Homo sapiens: one gene and its partner. The protein of the gene in region 2 purifies or fractionates together with the protein of the main gene of each other region. This does not show direct contact. Each region holds a gene or a part of one and is shown on either strand. Other genes may lie near its edges.

Region 1 (3,500 bases), on a different chromosome or scaffold from region 2:
TCTCAATTAAAAAAAAAATGATAAAATGAGCTTTGGGTAAGTTTTATCTTTCAGCTTTTGTGTCTTTCTAACTCTCTAAAATAAATGTTTTCTGTGAATATTTTTAAAACGAATGAATAAGAAGCAGGAATATTCCTATCGTGACCAACTTCAGGGCTCCTCTTAGGGCAGAAGAAGCCGATGTGGAGCAGGTCACCTGTCAGGAGGAACCTGCCTTTTCTTTCTTTTCTTTTTTCTTTTTTTTCTTTTTTGAGACAGAGTCTCACTCTGTCGCCCAGGCTGGAGTGCAGTGGCGCCTGGGTTCACGCCATTCTCCTGCCTCAGCCTCCCGAGTAGCTGGGATTACAGGCGCCCACCACCACACCCGGCTGATTTTTTGTATCTTTAGTAGAGACGGGGGTTTCACCGTGTTAGCCAGGATGGTCTCGATCTCCTGACCTCATGATCCGCCCACCTCGGCCTCCCAAAGTGCTGGGCTTACAGGCATGAGCCACCACACCTGGCCTTTTTTTTTCCTTTTCTCTGTCACCCAGGCTGGGGTGCAGTGGCACGATCTCAGCTCACTGCAACCTCTACCTCCCAGGTTCAGGCGATTCTCCTGTCTCAGCCACCCAAGTCTCAGCCGCCCAAGTTGCTAGGACTACAGACATGTGCCACCACGCCTGACTAATTTTTGTATTATTTGTAGAGACAGAGTTTTGCCATGTTGGCCAGGCTGGTCTCAAACTCCTGCCCTCAAGTGATCCACCCGCCTCAGTCTTCCAAAGTACTGGGATTACAGGCGTGAGCCATCGCGCCCAGCCAGAACCTGCCTTTTGATGTTTCTTTTTTGGAAATGCAGCATCCCTAGCCCTAGAAAGTGTGCCTTGGGTGATGTGTATTTCATTTCTTCGTATGAAGAAAGTTATCAGCCAGGTTATGCCTTCTTTGGGTTAGAGTCCAGAAAATACTCAGTGTTCTACAAAGAAAAACAAATCTGGATTTATTTTTATTTTTTGTTTTTTGAGACAGTCTCTCTCTGCCATCCAGGCTGGAGTGCAGTGGCACAATCTTGGCTCATTGCAACCTCAGCCCCCGGGTTCAAGTGATTCTCATGCCTCTGCCTACCAAGTGGCTGGGACTACAGGCATGCACCACCACGCCCCACTAATTTTTCTATTTTTAGTAGAGATGGGGTTTTACCGTGTTGGTCAGGCTGGTCTCGAACTCCTGACCTCAGATGTTCTGCCCGCCTCGGCCTCCCAAAGTGTAAACCTGGATTTAGAGCCACCTTTGTTAGAATGATCCAAGGGCTCCGTGAGGACTTGTTTTGCTTTTCCCATTTCAGTATGTAAAATGGACCAATGACAAGAGTCTCGGTGGCATCGAGGGCTGCCTGTCAAAGCTCAAAGCAGCAGATCCAACCTTTGGTGAGTAACGCCTTCCCTGGGTGGAGGAGCCCCGCTTCACACATCCAGCCCCTCTCTTTCCTTTACCACAGGGACACAGTTGGGATGGGGAAGGCAGGTTGGGTGGCAGCAACCAGGGTGGCATTTGCACAGAGGGAGAGAAGATGACAGCTGCCTTTGTGTCTGGAAAAACAGTCACTCCCATAAAGATGCCAGGTTCTATCAGAAGGCATTTTTCTCATCTTTTCTTTAATTACCATCAATTCGGGAATGAAGATGCTGATCTCATTTCTCAGATGAGGAAACTGAGGGTTGGCAAGAGTAAGACTGTACTTAAAGCCACCCAGCTGGTGGTTGACCCCTGGGATTAGATAAAGCTTCCTGAATCCAAGGCCCAGACCCCTGGAACATGAGAGGTGGCTGCTGCAGCCTCCGTCAGGGGACCAGTGAGGCCTCATCCAGAGTGGCCAGGGTGAGGTGGTGACAGAGGCTGGCATCCAGGCAAGCCATGTGTACAGCGGGCATGGGGAAGCCAGCACAGTGCATTGCAGGTGGGTGGTCCCGTGGTGCGGCAAGGTTCCGGGCCTGGGAGAAGGTCTGATGAGGGGACAGGGCTCTTGTCAGTGCGGCAGGGACACCCTTCTCACCCTGCTGCAGCCTAGTCAGACTTAAGGCAGGGGACTTGTACTGCCCTGGAGAAGACAAACAAGGAAATAACTGGGGGAGAACGGGGGAGCCAAACCCAGTCATGGGGAGCCAGGAGCCAGGGGTGGGCTCGGACTCTCTGAGCAGACCTTGAGCCCTGATCAGGGGGCTTCGACCACCTGAATCATCAGCTGGGCTGGGCTGGGCTCGACCATCGGAATCACCAGCTGTTTTCCAGGGTCCACATGGGTGGTCCTAGCACACTATGGTTGGGTCCTGGGTCCCAGGCCTGAGCCAGTGACCAAGTTCCAAATGCCAGTGGACACCCTGGCTCTCCCACAGTGGGGCCTGGGGGCCTGCACTCCTGCCAGCAAGGCTGCTGCGAGGGCCACAAGGCACTCACCCCCACCCTAACTTTTAGCATGTGTGAGCAGCACAGATGGGATCATGACTTCTGTGCTCCGGGGCCTCCTTGGTCCAGCCCCTTATGAGCAGCATCCACTGATGCCTCCCGGGAGCCGTGTGCTGGCTGTGGCGGTAGTGTCAGCTGATGAGCCTGCAGGCAGCCTCTAAGTGGCTCATCCATTGAAGGGGGAAGGTGCTTTAGACACTGGCACTCAGCAGAATGCCCTCACTAGAAAAATGTTCAAGGGTGCCTTTAGGCTTGCAGTTCCCTCCATGCTTGACAAGAGCCGAGGCTGAGTTCTAGACAGTAGGCAGGGCCACAGTGCCCAGCCTGCTGCTGCCTGGCTGGCCCCTCCTGGGACGTGGGGTGTCTCTGTGACATGTGGAGTCTGGGCTGGGATGGGCTGAGCTGGACCATCTGAACCACCAGCCGTTCTCTAACCTCCCACCAGTGATGGGCCACGCCATGGCTACTGGCCTTGTGCTGATTGGCACTGGAAGCTCCGTGAAGCTGGACAAAGAGCTGGACCTGGCTGTGAAGACAATGGTGGAGATTTCAAGAACCCAGCCGCTGACAAGGCGGGAGCAGCTGCACGTGTCTGCAGTAGAGACATTTGCCAATGGGTGAGGGGCCTCCCTGGGCTGGGAGCTGGCACCCTGAGGCTGAGCTGGGGGAGTGGCAGGGTATCCCTTTCCTGATGCCCTTGGGACGGGGGCGGGGTGGGAGAATGCTTCTCTCCCTGCCTCCTGAGATGCTCTGATGGAAAATCGCATCCTGTCTGCTTCCCTATTCTTGGTGGAGTGCTGAGTGAGGAAGCAGTTGGTGAAGATTCCCAACTTAGTGTCCAAAGTAACTTGCTTTGTTTCATTAAGTAAATTATATATTATTTTCCTTACAAAAATAATAGGGTCACACTACAGAAATTACTAGGTTAGGGAAGAGAGAAGAAAACATGCTTCTTCTAGTGAGAAATAAACAATCAAATCAAATCTTCACCCATAAGTTCCTTGCTCTTGCACTGACTTTCACATCATCCCCCCGCTGTTCCTATGCTGGTTCCC
Region 2 (3,500 bases):
TTTCTCATAACCTTACCTAGATAACAAGGTAAAACTGTCTCAGAAGTGCCTTTTAACTTTGTGATCTTTGAAAAAGCAGATAGAGTTTTCATTAAAGACCAGAGAACATTAAAACAATTTCAGTGCTTTCATCAAGATATGGCCCCTTTCAACCAATCATTTCAAAATATTACACAAAATTTAGGAGCCCTTTCTGTAAATAACACTGAAATGAATTTGGAAAGTGGCATTGCCTTAAGTATAGTACAGAGAAACTTTTGCCCAGGGGCCATATCATATCATTTGGATGGCTGTGCAGGTTTCTAAATAAGAGCCATCACCACTTATTTTGTTAAGAGAAAGGCAGCCTAAATAAATTCCTTTCTTGTTTCCTTTAACTAGTTACCCTGTGAACTAAGCTATGTTTCTTTCTCTCCCCATGAGTCCCAAAGTAGCTTTATTAATAGGAATATATGATGTTTGTGTTCTTAAAAAAAATCAGGGTGGTCTTAGATGTCTGTCGTCCATTCTGGCATTTCCCTTTATACAACCCTTTTGAATTTTCTGTTTAAAAACTGGCATTCCAACAGCTTTTCTTTGGCCTAATGCCTGGGTTGCATATTGAAGCAACAAATTAGGAATGTTAAGATGTCCCCCAAAGAAAAACGTTTGTTCTGAAAGTAGAGCTGATGTGACACATGGAATTAGGGCTTCTTAACTTGTCTAAATGACAGTTAATGATCTTTTCTCTTTTTCTTTTCTTTTATTGTTTTAACAGGGTGGCTGGGAGTGTAGAATGAAAGAAATGCCCAGAGGCCGAAATCGGGTTTGGTTCACCAAACTGTTAAATGTGTCAAGTGCACTTGACTGATACTACATCTTTTGCCTCTTTTTAGGAGCTAATTTCGTTACTCGAAAAATTAGCCGGTCAGTAGCTAAGATTTACCTTGGACAACTGGAATGTTTCAGTTTGGGAAATCTGGATGCCAAACGAGATTGGGGCCATGCCAAGGACTATGTGGAGGTAGGAACTGACACATTACATTCTTGAAAATACCCGTATCCATTGATATTCTAAATGCCAAGCGTACAGTGAAAAAGTGTGACCTAGAGGTGGGGGCATACAAACCTTTGCCAAGGCAGGTATGTTTACACTCATGCTGCTTTCACTTCAGGGATCAGTCGTTCAGGGATTGGTGGTTCAGACGTACAGGTAGCTTACACTGAATGGTACTTGAATGAGGAAAACTTTCACAAATACTCTTCCAATTATTTGTGCTGGATGATGGATAGATAGATGGAAAAAGTGTTTGAATGGTGCTCCTCTTTATTTTGGGGGTATAAAAGTACTAGTTCTCAGATCTTCTAGAAATACTGCCTCATTTCAATGTATATAATTCAAGATTCTTGGACTTACATTATTCTACTAAGTCCCGCCAAGAGTAATATTCTTATGGAACTCTGCTTTCTGCTGCTGAAGAGTCTGGTTATTACATCACACACTTCTTAACATGTTATATTGCATGTCGTTGAGCTTTACCTATTAAAGAGAGATAGAGAAAGATGTTAATAATGATTCTATTGTGAAATAATGGATATTGTTAAAGGGAAATTCAGATTTTCATTCTTGGCATTCCTAGACATGCTGTTTTGGGTTTGCATATATTACATACGCAAGTAGTATGATTTTTCTTTTATAAACAAATGGTTACCTTTTACTTTGCCCTGATCTCCCTGCTTTTAAATATCCATGTTGGTTCTGTGGTCAGACATGAGCAAGCATGGTAGAGACATTGTCCTTTCCCTGGAGTAGCCTGTCCTTGTTCAAGTGCTCACAGATTTCCTGTGCTCATGAGCCTATTTCTGTCCTGAATGATGTCTCTCTAGGAAACTGGACCCAGCTTTCTTGTTCATTTATGCAATTCAAAAAGAAACTTTAATGCCTACAAAAGAAAGCAAACAATTAGTTTGTTTGCTAGTGCAGAGATGAGGCTCACCTGCCATCTTGTTTTTGGTCATAACAATAAAAAATGTGTGTGTGTTTGAACAGCTAATACTGATTTCTGTTATGCACAAAATAATTAGCTTTGACTTTAGATTTTGAATAGTGCAACATTTAGATCTATTTATTTATTTATTTATTTATTTATTTATTTTTGAGACAGAGTCTCTCTCTGTTGCTCAGGCTAGAGTGCAGTGGCATGATTTCGCCTCACTACAACCTCGGCCTCCCAGGTTCAAGCGATTCTCCTGCCTCAGCCTCCTGCGTAGGTGGGACTATAGGCATGCGCCACCACACCCGACTAATTTTTGTTTTTTTAGCAGAGATGGGGTTTCACCATTTTGACCAGGCGGGTCTCAAACTCCTGACCTCAGGTGATCCACCCGCCTTAGCCTCCCAAAGTGCTGGGATTACAGGGATGAGCCACCGTGCCCAGCCTAAATCTTTTAAATATGTGCTTCTAAGCTATAATTACAAAGAAGCATTTTATGACATTAATCCTTAGATTTATTTTCAGAACATCACATCAAAAAATATATAGGTTCACGCTTAGAAATTATGAGAAAGTAGATACTGGCAAGAGAAGCCAAAACTTTCTTTTGTCTAACCTAAATGACCTTACCTACTGAAAAATATGAGGCTTGTTATGTAAAAATACATTATTTTCTCAATAATATCTATTTATTGTTTAGCCTTCTAGCCATCAGCATCTGCATAGAGCTACATAGTAAGCTATAGGTATTCTTTTTTTTTTTTTTCTTAAGGCAGAGTCTCGCTCTGTTGCCAGTCTGGAATGCAGTGGCACAATCTTGGCTCACTGCAACCTCTGCCTCCCGGGTTCAAGCGATTCTCCTGCCTCAGACTCATGAGTAGCTGGGACTACAGGCGCGTACCACGACGCCCAGCTAATTTTTATATTTTTAGTAGAGACGGGGTTTCACTGTGTTGACCAGGATGGTCTCCATCTGTTGACCTCATGATCCACCCACCTTGGCCTCCCAAAGTGCCGGGATTACAGGCTTGAGCCACTGCACCTGGCCCTATATAGGTATTATTTATCCAAACTCTTCTCCAAGTTCAAGGAACCAAATCGATTAAATTTCATTCAATTTTATTATTTTGCACGTAGGTGAAAAAGGATTCGGAAATCTAATAGATTTTGATAGTGAGGGAAACAGTATACCATAATGTTGATAGTGCTTTTTACAGGTTGTGTTTATTTTCTTCTTTATACTGTCTTTATTTTCCATAGATTTTAAATGAACATGTGTAAACCTTTGTAATTGGCCGGGGTAGGAGGTGACATTTCAGAAACAGGCCAAAAAGTCTCATGAAAATGAATGAGAGTGTTAAGTAAGTAAGGAGGAAGTCTTGTGTCAACGAGTAGATCTGAAAGAAGGACGCTGCTGTCATCTCACTTCCCAAATGCCAAGCTAGCTCCACTGTGAGTGTAGTCCACATCTGGGCACAACACTTCCCAAATGCCAAGCTAGCGCTGCTGCGAGTGTAGTCCACATCT

What was found. The genes of interacting proteins can lie anywhere in the genome.
Region 1: the proteins of GMDS (region 2) and TTC38 fractionate together in Homo sapiens (co-fractionation; one large-scale study listed by BioGRID). This does not show direct contact.

The regions. Positions count from the first base shown.
Region 1 is NC_000022.11:46,271,008-46,274,507, forward strand, and holds part of TTC38 (tetratricopeptide repeat protein 38), read left to right. Parts: intron 1-1,327; coding exon 1,328-1,409; intron 1,410-2,890; coding exon 2,891-3,062; intron 3,063-3,500.
Region 2 is NC_000006.12:1,927,606-1,931,105, reverse strand, and holds part of GMDS (GDP-mannose 4,6 dehydratase), read left to right. Parts: intron 1-875; coding exon 876-1,003; intron 1,004-3,500. UniProt on the Homo sapiens protein: Catalyzes the conversion of GDP-D-mannose to GDP-4-dehydro-6-deoxy-D-mannose.